Homo sapiens: one gene and its partners. The protein of the gene in region 2 purifies or fractionates together with the protein of the main gene of each other region. This does not show direct contact. Each region holds a gene or a part of one and is shown on either strand. Other genes may lie near its edges.

Region 1 (4,300 bases), about 79 Mb from region 2:
GGGACAGACCAAGTGCGGTCCCTCCCATCCAGGAGCTTACAGCCCATGTAGGGAGGGCTGTAAGGGCTCAGTACTGAGCCCCTAGCACAAAGGCCCTGTCCTTAGAAGGCCCTAGTCAGTATTTATTCGCTGAACGGATTCCACCTCCTGCATATCATACAATTGTCTGGGCAGCCATAAAGAGCTTCATTGTGCTTTAGGTGAGTGATCTCAGGCAAGTCACCTGCCCTCTGCATAGTTTCCTTCTCTGTACACCCACCATGGAGCTTCCTACTTTATCAACCTCATAGGTTTAAGAATAAAATAGGATCCTACTTAAGGCAGAGGTGCTGAAAGCAAACTGCATCCTTATTCCTGTATCCCTGGGGTTGAAATTAGCGGTAGCTCCTGTGTCTGGGGCATGTGAGCAGATACTCTTGCTGGGCTCTTTGACCACAGGAGTCTCCCAGAAGCAGGGCTTTATTTTATGTCTCACACAGAGAGGAGTGGCCCAGACCTGCCTCAGGAAGCCTCCATTTGCCCATGGCATAGGACACACCCCATGTTCCTCACTGCTCCATTCTCCTGGGTCCTAGCAGTGACCGTCATGCGTGCCTGTTTTGCATACCTCCCAAACCGAGGTGTAACCTGGGCAGCTTCTAGACACACTGCAAAGCAGGTCATTTAATGTATGACTGTGCAGGAGACTCAGTTTAAAGGAGCTTCAGACGGAAGTGACAGTGGTTGCCAATGACCTTTGACTTATCTCACAGCTCTCCCTTGAGCACCCACTGAATGCCCAGGTATTGGGGACACAGCAGTGCCTAAACACAGAATGTGGTGGTGTGGGGGTAGGGGGCGGCCTTCCCAGAGCACACAGTGTTGGAATGAGACAGAAATAATATGTAACTACAAACTGTCCTCAGAATGGTGAAGAATTTGAACAGGTGCCTGACACAGAATACCAGGAGGGGCCTGACTCTGGGTTGAGTGGGCAGGAAAGCACTCTCTGTGGAGGAGACTTTAAGCTGAGACATGAAGAATGGAGAAGAGGTGTTGTCCTGGAGGGGTGGCAGGAGCTGCAGAAGAGCCACTACAGGCTTAAGGGCCAGTCATCTGAGGAAAGAAAGTTCTAGACATGGGGAGAGGGGAGTGTGCTGGGAGCTGAGGTTGGGTGGGGAGGCGGAGCGGATTGTGAGAGGCTTGTGGGCTGTGTAAAGAGTTCCTGAAGTCTTTCTTTTGCTTTCTGGGTCAGGGCTTGGGTGCAGTGCCCGGGTGGTGTCCTTGAACTGTGAGATGAGACACCTCACTGGACACCTAGCCTGGCTTGCCAGGAGACCGGGGTGGGGGCGCCTCCTTCCAGGGCTGAACCGGAAGTGGAGGAGAGCTGCAATGGCCTTCCCATGCCCAGAAGCTGCAGGAGCAGACAATGGGGTTGGCAAGCTCTGGGTAGGGTACAGGCCGCACAGGTCTGAGGGCAAGATGCAAATGTCACTTTCAGTACCAAGAAAAACGAGGCAATAATCTAGAGTCCTGGGCTGAACGTGGACAGCTCCCGAATCATCAGGTGGGTGGGGATTAGGACAAAATCGTGTATCCTGGGGAGATGGAGGGAAACAGAACTGTGTATTGGTGTGCTAATGTCTCAGTGCTTGGTACAACCCTGGCAACTCTGCCAGGCCGTATTCTTGTTTTATGTACAAAGAAACCGAGGCAGGCTGCATGCTCAAGGTCATGGGATGCAGGCACGACAGGTTTTCTGAACTCAGAACTGACTCAGATTTGCCAGTCGGTTTGGACTTCTCACCCACTCTGAAGATCACAAAAGAAAGAAAGGTCAGGAAGCTCTTAGTGCCTGGTGAATACTGGATGGTAAATGCTCACAGGTCTGGAAGGGAGGAAGGGTTCCCCCCAAACGGTGGGTCTGGTCTGTTCCGGGCTTCACAGGAGACCAAGCAGAGAATAAGACAGTGCGGAGCAGGATGGAGGGCTCAGGGGTCTTCCCTGCAGAGGTTCCTGGGGGCGTGGCAGGGCTGTGGCTGACAGGGTGCTTCCTACGGTTTTTTCCAGGCCCAGAGGCCTTTGGGCCAAAGGCAGCCCCGCCGGTCCTTCTTTGAATCCTTCATCCGGACCCTCATCATCACGTGTGTGGCCCTGGCTGTGGTCCTGTCCTCGGTCTCCATTTGTGATGGGCACTGGCTCCTGGCTGAGGACCGCCTCTTCGGGCTCTGGCACTTCTGCACCACCACCAACCAGACGATCTGCTTCAGAGACCTGGGCCAGGCCCATGTGCCCGGGCTGGCCGTGGGCATGGGCCTGGTACGCAGCGTGGGCGCCTTGGCCGTGGTGGCCGCCATTTTTGGCCTGGAGTTCCTCATGGTGTCCCAGTTGTGCGAGGACAAACACTCACAGTGCAAGTGGGTCATGGGTTCCATCCTCCTCCTGGTGTCTTTCGTCCTCTCCTCCGGCGGGCTCCTGGGTTTTGTGATCCTCCTCAGGAACCAAGTCACACTCATCGGCTTCACCCTAATGTTTTGGTGCGAATTCACTGCCTCCTTCCTCCTCTTCCTGAACGCCATCAGCGGCCTTCACATCAACAGCATCACCCATCCCTGGGAATGACCGTGGAAATTTTAGGCCCCCTCCAGGGACATCAGATTCCACAAGAAAATATGGTCAAAATGGGACTTTTCCAGCATGTGGCCTCTGGTGGGGCTGGGTTGGACAAGGGCCTTGAAACGGCTGCCTGTTTGCCGATAACTTGTGGGTGGTCAGCCAGAAATGGCCCGGGGGCCTCTGCACCTGGTCTGCAGGGCCAGAGGCCAGGAGGGTGCCTCAGTGCCACCAACTGCACAGGCTTAGCCAGATGTTGATTTTAGAGGAAGAAAAAAACATTTTAAAACTCCTTCTTGAATTTTCTTCCCTGGACTGGAATACAGTTGGAAGCACAGGGGTAACTGGTACCTGAGCTAGCTGCACAGCCAAGGATAGTTCATGCCTGTTTCATTGACACGTGCTGGGATAGGGGCTGCAGAATCCCTGGGGCTCCCAGGGTTGTTAAGAATGGATCATTCTTCCAGCTAAGGGTCCAATCAGTGCCTAGGACTTTCTTCCACCAGCTCAAAGGGCCTTCGTATGTATGTCCCTGGCTTCAGCTTTGGTCATGCCAAAGAGGCAGAGTTCAGGATTCCCTCAGAATGCCCTGCACACAGTAGGTTTCCAAACCATTTGACTCGGTTTGCCTCCCTGCCCGTTGTTTAAACCTTACAAACCCTGGATAACCCCATCTTCTAGCAGCTGGCTGTGCCTCTGGGAGCTCTGCCTATCAGAACCCTACCTTAAGGTGGGTTTCCTTCCGAGAAGAGTTCTTGAGCAAGCTCTCCCAGGAGGGCCCACCTGACTGCTAATACACAGCCCTCCCCAAGGCCCGTGTGTGCATGTGTCTGTCTTTTGTGAGGGTTAGACAGCCTCAGGGCACCATTTTTAATCCCAGAACACATTTCAAAGAGCACGTATCTAGACCTGCTGGACTCTGCAGGGGGTGAGGGGGAACAGCGAGAGCTTGGGTAATGATTAACACCCATGCTGGGGATGCATGGAGGTGAAGGGGGCCAGGAACCAGTGGAGATTTCCATCCTTGCCAGCACGTCTGTACTTCTGTTCATTAAAGTGCTCCCTTTCTAGTCCTTTTTCTGCCCAGAAGTAGGTGATGTTATTGCCCTCAGCCCATTTCATTCTACACTGACTCCTTCCCATTCCCTCACCTGTTGAATTCTGGCTCCCAGCAATTGCATGGGTTTTTGGTCTCTGCCCCGGTCTTGTCACTGCTGCAGGTTCCTTTCCTGGTCTGGGCTGAGTGCCTATACCTACGTCTATTGTGATGTTTTAAATTTTTTATTCCAGGATGCATGGAGTCATGAAGCTGTCTGCTTTGTAGGATATAAGGCCATGGGCTTTAAGGTTGAACCACCAAGGTGCCCAGAGTCCATGGAGATCATCCTGGAAAGGTTTCCATGAATTGCTCAGTTTTACAGAGTACAGAGCTCATCAACCACACTGGCGGCATCTTAGCCTGGGAAATGGGAACCTGGAGCAATCTACAAGTTGCAAAGGGGATGTGTAACCCCCTGGTTTCTTCACGGGGAGGGGATGTATGGAGGTGGGGAGTCAGGGCCCAGAGAGGGATGCACTTGTCCAGGGTCACCCAAAGCTGGGAGTAGAGCTGACCCACCCACCAGCAGGATGCCTTTTCCTTGACACGGAGGGGAGTTTCTCTACTTCCCTCCAGAACGCTACCCCCTGAGCACTAGTAGGTTTGGTT
Region 2 (3,649 bases):
GTAGCCAAGAAATTATTTTCAGGGTGTTTCCTTTTTGGGTTTTCCCAATTTGTACTCAGAAACGAAGTTAGAGACCTATTGTGATGTTTTAAATATTCCTTTTCTGAGTATATACCATGTGATTCAAAATAGAAGACCAATTTCTCAGCCTGTCTTAAGTCATCTGATAAACTGTGTCCCATCACTCATTTTATCATAGTCACAATGTAGTTAAAATGTGTAAATGTATAAAAGTAAAAATAAAATTCTGATGTAAATAAATTTAAGATCTCTGTGTGCAGAGCATATTGATAACTGGCACCCAAGCAAAGACTGATATCTTGAAAGGGATCTTGTATAAAAGCTATTCCATTCCTTGCATGCTATTTAATTTAAAAAATGATGCACAGACTCACATTCATAAACACACTGAACCACACACACACACACACACACACACACACATATATAATATAGAACTTACACAATTTCATCATTCTGGAATTCGAGCTCTCCACAAGTGTCCTCAAAATCCTCCCCTCCACCTCTGGCAGTCCCTTCGATGGTTTTATATGGAACGATAACATTTCCTCGAGCTCCAGATGTTCTCAATACTTTCACCTCCATGATGCCAATGCTCTCACTCACATGAGTCACAGGTTCCTCAAAAGTAAAAATGCCTGCGTGGTCATCATCAAAAATAGTTACAGTGGCAGTGGAGGGAGATCCGAGGCAAGCAAGTGTAGAAACATGATTGGCTTCCAGTATGCCATCTTCTGAAGCTTCAGAAGATACTTTGACATTGCTGAGATGCACAAGGAAATTTTCATCCTCCTCAAAGATATCATCATCTATGATACCCACTCTGATTTCCTTCTGGGTATCACCAGGCTTAAACACCACAGTTCCTTCAGTAAATTCATAATCAGACCCAGCATTTGCTGTGCCATCCTCTGTTCTGAAGTCAACAAACACAGTGTTAGTCAAATCACCACCTCTGCGGATAATGGTAAGGGCCACAGTACCACAGTTCTCCAGACACTGATATGTCCCTTGTTCAAAGAAGATCTTACTAACAGGGTCATTTTCAGTCACTTCAGTGTTGACCTCGTGCATGCTGACAGCCTTCCTTGCTTGGTCAGCTGCATGCCTCTTTAAAATGTTGCCAGCTCCAGTCATGAGGCGAGTAGCTTGAATGCGATAAAATGCTCTACTTTTTTGCTGCTGACTTAGGACTTGGTAGTTAGCTAATTCTATTAATTGCTCTATTTCTTTATCTGGATGCTTCTGCTTAAGTTCCTTCAGAATCCTAGCCATTTCTCGCCTAGCTTCTTCATCATCTTGGTCCCTCTCATCCACCTCCAGAACCAGAGCACCATCTAAGAAATTTTCAACATGAGAATTGACCACTTTCCCGTCCATTTCAATTTCAGTCTTAGAAGATGGCCTGTCTCCTTCATGTTCAATAATCATCCCCCTCTGCTTGCCAGCTCGATACCTCTTGTAGACATACTTGTAAAACAGAAGTCTCCTATCCGCTACCCAAGCGAACACAACACAGATGGGAAAGAAGAAGAAAGTAAGCAAACCTTCCCAGACCTCCACAACACCAGGAGATATGACAGACAAAATAATGTAAAGCCAGGTGTAGGCAAAGATGCTCCAGGCTGCTGTCACAAAGAAGACACGCAAATGCTTAATCTTCCTTGTCTCTCCGTCAGGCACCACATAAACACAGAGTGCAATAATGATGAACATATTGAATGCAGCACTTCCCACGATGGTGCTAGGACCGAGGTCTCCTGCAGTGAAGTTATGGCCACACACTTCAATTACTGAAAGGAGAATCTCAGGAGCAGAAGATCCCAGGGCCATCAAGGTCAGGTTAGAAACTGTTTCATTCCAGATCCTCACAGTTGTCTTGGTGGTCTCTCCATTGGGTTTCTTTATGGTTATTTCTTTTTCTTGAGATGTGATGACTTCTATAGAGGACATGAACCGATCAGCTATGATAGAGACTCCAAGAAACATGTAGACCATGGCCACAAAATACACAGTAGCTCTAGCAATTTTGTCCCCAAAAGAAGGGTCTTGGGGTTCCCAAATGGGCAAAATCACCCCTTTCTTACAGTAATATGATCCAGTACATTCACCAGTTTCATTTCCTTCTCCTTCCATTTCTGTCTCAGCAATTACATGGTCCACATGGGAAAATAAGAGACTCACAGTAACTAACAGATGAAATCCCATTGAAAAGGTGGGTGAAAGACTTAATCGCCGCATGTTGTACATGACACTTCCAACTGTCACAACCTACTGGTAAAAATAAGATGGGGGAGAGGGCAGAAAAAAAGTCATGTCATTAGAGCTGCAGCCAAAGCATTACTAATTACTTATTTTTATTACTCTTACCAAAATTTGTTTATATTTGACCATCACAAAACCGAAATTTGTTTATATTTGACCATCACAAAATCTATGGTGAATGATTGTTCTAAGACTCCATCAGTGACTAAGCAATCCTTTGTAAAGTTTACAACTCAATCTTTCTGTGAATTTACTACATGTAGTACCCATTCACTGAGCAAGATACACAATTGACTTACTGGAAAGGAAAAGTTCAATTTATATAGCCTTGCCTTATTAAACACACATTTATGCATGCTAATAGCCAAAATCACAGGACTTTTGAAGCATTAAACAATTTCCTCCTTTTTACTAAAGCAGATTTTCTTCTAAATTTGTGTTAGTACATCATCTTCCAAAAACGGTTTCAATGCCAAAAGCACCTTATTACAATTGATGCTTTGAAAATCAGACTCCGAAAAAATCCCACCAACACAAGGCCTGGTGATTATCTTAAACGCCAGAGAGCATCTTACACTGTATTTCATGAAATCATGTCCTATTGCTCCACACTTACTTGGAAACAAAACTTCAAGCTTGCCTGAAATCAAAGCTCAATGGCATTTGTTCTTGAGGAGAAAAAAATTCTGCTATAATGCAATATTTCCACACATTAAGTACAGTTTTTAAAAGCATGTTTTGATGAGAGCACATTTCTTTCTAATTTTCAGCCAGCCCAGGTCTGCTGATACATTAGCAGCTGGGCATCTGGTTCTTCAAGCACAGCTCTTCACATCTGTGTACAGAGCCTGTTTTTCTGCAGGCTGGAAAGGGAGATAAACAGGCCAAGGCCTAGTTGTGGGTAAGCGCCTGGCAGGCTGTGGAATCAGCGTCACCAACCTTAAAATGTTCCTTCTCGGTGTCGGTCATATTTTCCATGGTCATTCTAAAATACATATTAGTTCTGTCGAGGGTTCAAGTGACCAAAAAATGCAGGACCAATAATTCCATTTAAATTAGCTCATGTGGCATGACAAGAGTGACCACAAAATATACACATGATGAAGGACTGTAGGCAAGGAGGGCCATGGCAACAGAGTCAGTGAGCAGCACACAAAGCTTGGTAGGCATAGCAGTGGACTCAACCACCATGGCCTTAAGTCCACCCACCAGCTCAAGCAAAACTCTACTCAGACCTTACATCCCTTCTGCTTCCAGAACCTGGGATGGAGGTGAGGGGAAACTGAAGTAGAGGAAGGTCTGCTCCAAGTCAAGGTGACTGTCTCCCAGGCCTTGCAGGATGGACTAGTTATGACATCAGATA
Region 3 (3,649 bases), on a different chromosome or scaffold from region 2:
GATTTTCTAGCATCGGATCATGCAACTAAGTTCTAACCAGTGACATATAAGCATACGTAGCCTCTAAAAACTTTCCTTAAGAGAAAGCTAGTTACCATTAAACAACTGGAGACAGTTGTTTAAAAAACAAAAAATTAAGTCTTGTCCTGGTCTTTATATAAATTCCACACTGTCGTAATCAGGAAGTACTCAATAAATCTTCTGCGTGCCTTTTCCGTCTCTTCTATCTCTGTGTTAGTCCTGTCCTCTGGTATTCAAAGATTTGCCTCACTAGCAATTTCTGATCACATTTGAAAGAAAAATACGCTATTTTTACACTGTACAAAAAACATCATTTTTATGCCTAATAATTCCATCATTTCTTTTACCTAGGTTCTTCATGAATATCACTGTATAAGAGAACAAAATCAGAATATCACTTTATAATAAATATTAAGTATTATATTAAAATATCACTGTATAATAGAACAAAACAGTTTTAACTTTTCTTTAAATATACCTGGAAAAGAGCCATACTGAGCTCCTGACTGTCGTCTGGCTTCTTCCTCCTTTGATACAAAAGGAAATAAATTATATAATAGAAGAAGAAATAAGTGCTGTCCATGCAACCTGTCCATGCAAGACCATGAAAAAATTGTAAAATAACCTAGTAGATGGCAATACTGAACTGAAGGATATACTTCATACCCCCTTCAAACATTTTTTCCAAACTGGATTCTCAGTGGGCATTATTCTTGGTAGTAATTTCAAGTAAAGTGTTTTACTTCTACTCTGGAAACAAGTAAACCTGGAAAACAATTTATAGTACTAATATGAAAACTCTAAATTCATCCTGGCTTTAAAACACCCATAGGGAAGGACATGGCTAGATTACCAAGACTACCATGACTTTTGTTTCCTAGGTACATCTTTTCCGTTATTCTCCCTACATAATACAAATGTAGATTTATTGATTTGTTTTTGCTGCTTTTTAAAAGAGAAAATGAACAAAAAATAAATATCCCTCATATGTAGTTTTAAAATTATTGAGGAGATATATTGCTTTTAAATATCAAGGAGATAAATTACTTTTAAAGATTATAAACTATAACCTTAAAATCAAGTATGATGCTTAATATTAAATGGACAAAAAATTAGAATGTAACATATTATATAATACAGCCTTAGGTTCTTTCATGTTCTTTCATTCAATAATGTTAGAAATAAGTAGGTGAATTATTGTAGCATCACACTATGTTGCCCAGGCTAGTCTCGAACTCCTGGGCTCAAGTGAACCTCCCACCACAGCCTCCCAAGAGCTGGGACTATAGGCACTTGCCACCTTGCCCTGCTAGAATCATTTTTAAATAGCAACACATCCACTGTTGGAAGAGAGGAGGAATCATAAATTTAATTAATCTGGCGAAGCATCCTCAAAAGATCAAACAATAATACTGTCACATTTCAATTACTTGACCTGGAAAAACAACTGATTTTATAAAAACACAAACAAGAATATAAAATGGTGAAATAAAAGCTCACTGAATAATTTAAGACTAAAAATGTCCCCCAAATTAGATACAGTGAAAGGAGACTCCCCATAAGTAATATCATTACTCTATAGAACTGTAGCCAGCATTAAATAAAAGAGCCAGGAATTAAAATTTTAGTGTCCTAATGCCTCTACATAATTTGCCGTATTTTCCTTTCATGGCTTAGCTATAGGAAATTTACCCTCTGGGCTCTCTCATGCTCTTCTCGAGCCTTCTTAACTCGTTCTATTCTTTCTTTGATCTCTCGCTCTTCACGTTTTCGCTCATACTTTCTCCGATGTTCTGCAATTTTCTGTGCCTAGAAAAAAGAGCCATAGCAAAATAAGCTTGCTCCAAAAGCTGAATAACATCAACACAAATATTCTTTGTAGAGAGATGTTTAATTCAACATGCAGTTCAGAAAAATGACAGATTTGTCTTGTACAAAAAGACCTAACACAAGCTAAGCCTTTAAGAAAACCAACCTCAACTGCATGAGGCACTGTAAAACAGAGTAAAGGGGCCTGGGATTTGAAGTTAGAAATGTTATAATCTCAAACAATTAAGCTCAAAGATTAACAAACAGGTTTCTAAGTGCATGACAATTCTTGCCTGCTAGTTTCTATCAGATACACAGTGTTTAGGTTTCAGACGGACAGCTGAATTCAGTAGGAAGAGTATTATTACGGATGTCTGCCGTGGGAAGGCAGAGACTGGGAACTCATACCCCAAGTATATGCCACAGTATATTTAAGTTTCTGTATCCATAAAATGGGAGAGGAAGAAATATTTAATATTATCAAATTGCTATAGGGATTAAGAGGGAAAAATGTAAATATGTATACCAGACACTAGTATCAAATAAATGCTCTGGATGTTATTTCCTCAGAGAATAAAATACATTTAAGAGATTCATATTCAACTGTCACTTTAGCTTGTTTACACTTTGCTGACAAAGTTACAACTTTGCCCTATTTTAAGAAGAAAACAGAAAACCAAATGAACTCTCTGGCAGTAAATAATTAAATTCAATACAATTCCCACTATCTTAAAATCTCTGAGAGTAAATTCTTGACAGCTGAACTTCCCACAAAATGAAGGATTTACCATGTAAACACATTAAAATTATTTTAACCAACAATTTTAGATAAAAATCATCCTTAAAAGCTGGAATGTTCTACTTTTGGGATTCAATATTATTATTTTTAAAAGATTGAAACTTCTTTGTTTTATTAAGACAGCCTCGCTCTGTCACCCAGGCTGGAGTGCTGTGGCGTGATCTTGGCTCACTGCAACCTTCCACCTCCCAGGTTCAAGTGATTCTCCTGCCTCAGCCTCCCGAGTAGCTGGGACTACGTAGGCGCATGCCACCACACCTGGCTAACTTTTTGTACTTTTAGTAGAGACAGGGTTTCACTACGTTGGCCAGGCTGGTCTTGAACTCCTGACCTCATGATCCACCTGCCTCGGCCTCCCAAAGTGCTGGGATTACAGGCATGAGCCACCGCGCCTGGCCGGAAAGCCTGAAACTTCTTAACTTCCACAAGGTCTTCTTGCTTTATAAAGTGGTTGTACACACCTATGATAAATAAGGACACATCAGATTCAATCCTGGGTAATGCTAATTATAGATTTTCTATTTGTTTCCTTGTTGTAAACCTGATACCCCCTTTTCTAATTTTCTGGTTATAATTCCACTGCAGGCTTCCAAACAAAGTAACAGAGTTTGCTCTAATAATGCATGAGAAATGAAAGCATGAAAACCTAATGAGATCTCCAGAGTCGAGCACAAACTTCAGCAATTACAGATTATATCTTCCAATGGTTTGTTTCTTTGCCTGTTTTTCAGATGAATTACAGCTGTCGGGGGCTAAGCACTACAGCGATGGAGTATTTAACTAATGACTTTCCCTTTCTCTACTTTGACATACCCTAGGTTGAACTTCTTTCAGCATTGCACTAGCATCTTCATCATAATCCAATTTACAGGCAAGGGCAAGATCATGGGCTGCTTCTTCCCAGTGGCCTAGAAGTCTGAAACAGATTTACACTCATTTTAGGAGCCTTTTATACATATTCACCTATGTGGCATGATATCTTTCTTCCTTACAAAAAAGGATTGTTCTAAAACAGGCTTA

Evidence for each region.
Region 1: the proteins of SLC8A1 (region 2) and TMEM37 fractionate together in Homo sapiens (co-fractionation; one large-scale study listed by BioGRID). This does not show direct contact.
Region 3: the proteins of SLC8A1 (region 2) and ST13 fractionate together in Homo sapiens (co-fractionation; one large-scale study listed by BioGRID). This does not show direct contact.

The regions. Positions count from the first base shown.
Region 1 is NC_000002.12:119,434,840-119,439,139, forward strand, and holds the end of TMEM37 (voltage-dependent calcium channel gamma-like subunit), read left to right. Parts: intron 1-1,451; exon of another isoform or gene 1,452-1,546; intron 1,547-2,049; coding exon 2,050-2,601; 3' UTR 2,602-3,665; downstream 3,666-4,300. UniProt on the Homo sapiens protein: Thought to stabilize the calcium channel in an inactivated (closed) state. Modulates calcium current when coexpressed with CACNA1G.
Region 2 is NC_000002.12:40,428,010-40,431,658, forward strand, and holds part of SLC8A1 (sodium/calcium exchanger 1 isoform A precursor), read right to left. Parts: intron 2,296-3,649; 5' UTR 2,272-2,295; coding exon 464-2,271; intron 1-463. UniProt on the Homo sapiens protein: Mediates the exchange of one Ca(2+) ion against three to four Na(+) ions across the cell membrane, and thereby contributes to the regulation of cytoplasmic Ca(2+) levels and Ca(2+)-dependent cellular processes.
Region 3 is NC_000022.11:40,829,127-40,832,775, forward strand, and holds part of ST13 (hsc70-interacting protein), read right to left. Parts: intron 3,546-3,649; coding exon 3,443-3,545; intron 1,831-3,442; coding exon 1,714-1,830; intron 549-1,713; coding exon 500-548; intron 1-499. UniProt on the Homo sapiens protein: One HIP oligomer binds the ATPase domains of at least two HSC70 molecules dependent on activation of the HSC70 ATPase by HSP40. Stabilizes the ADP state of HSC70 that has a high affinity for substrate protein.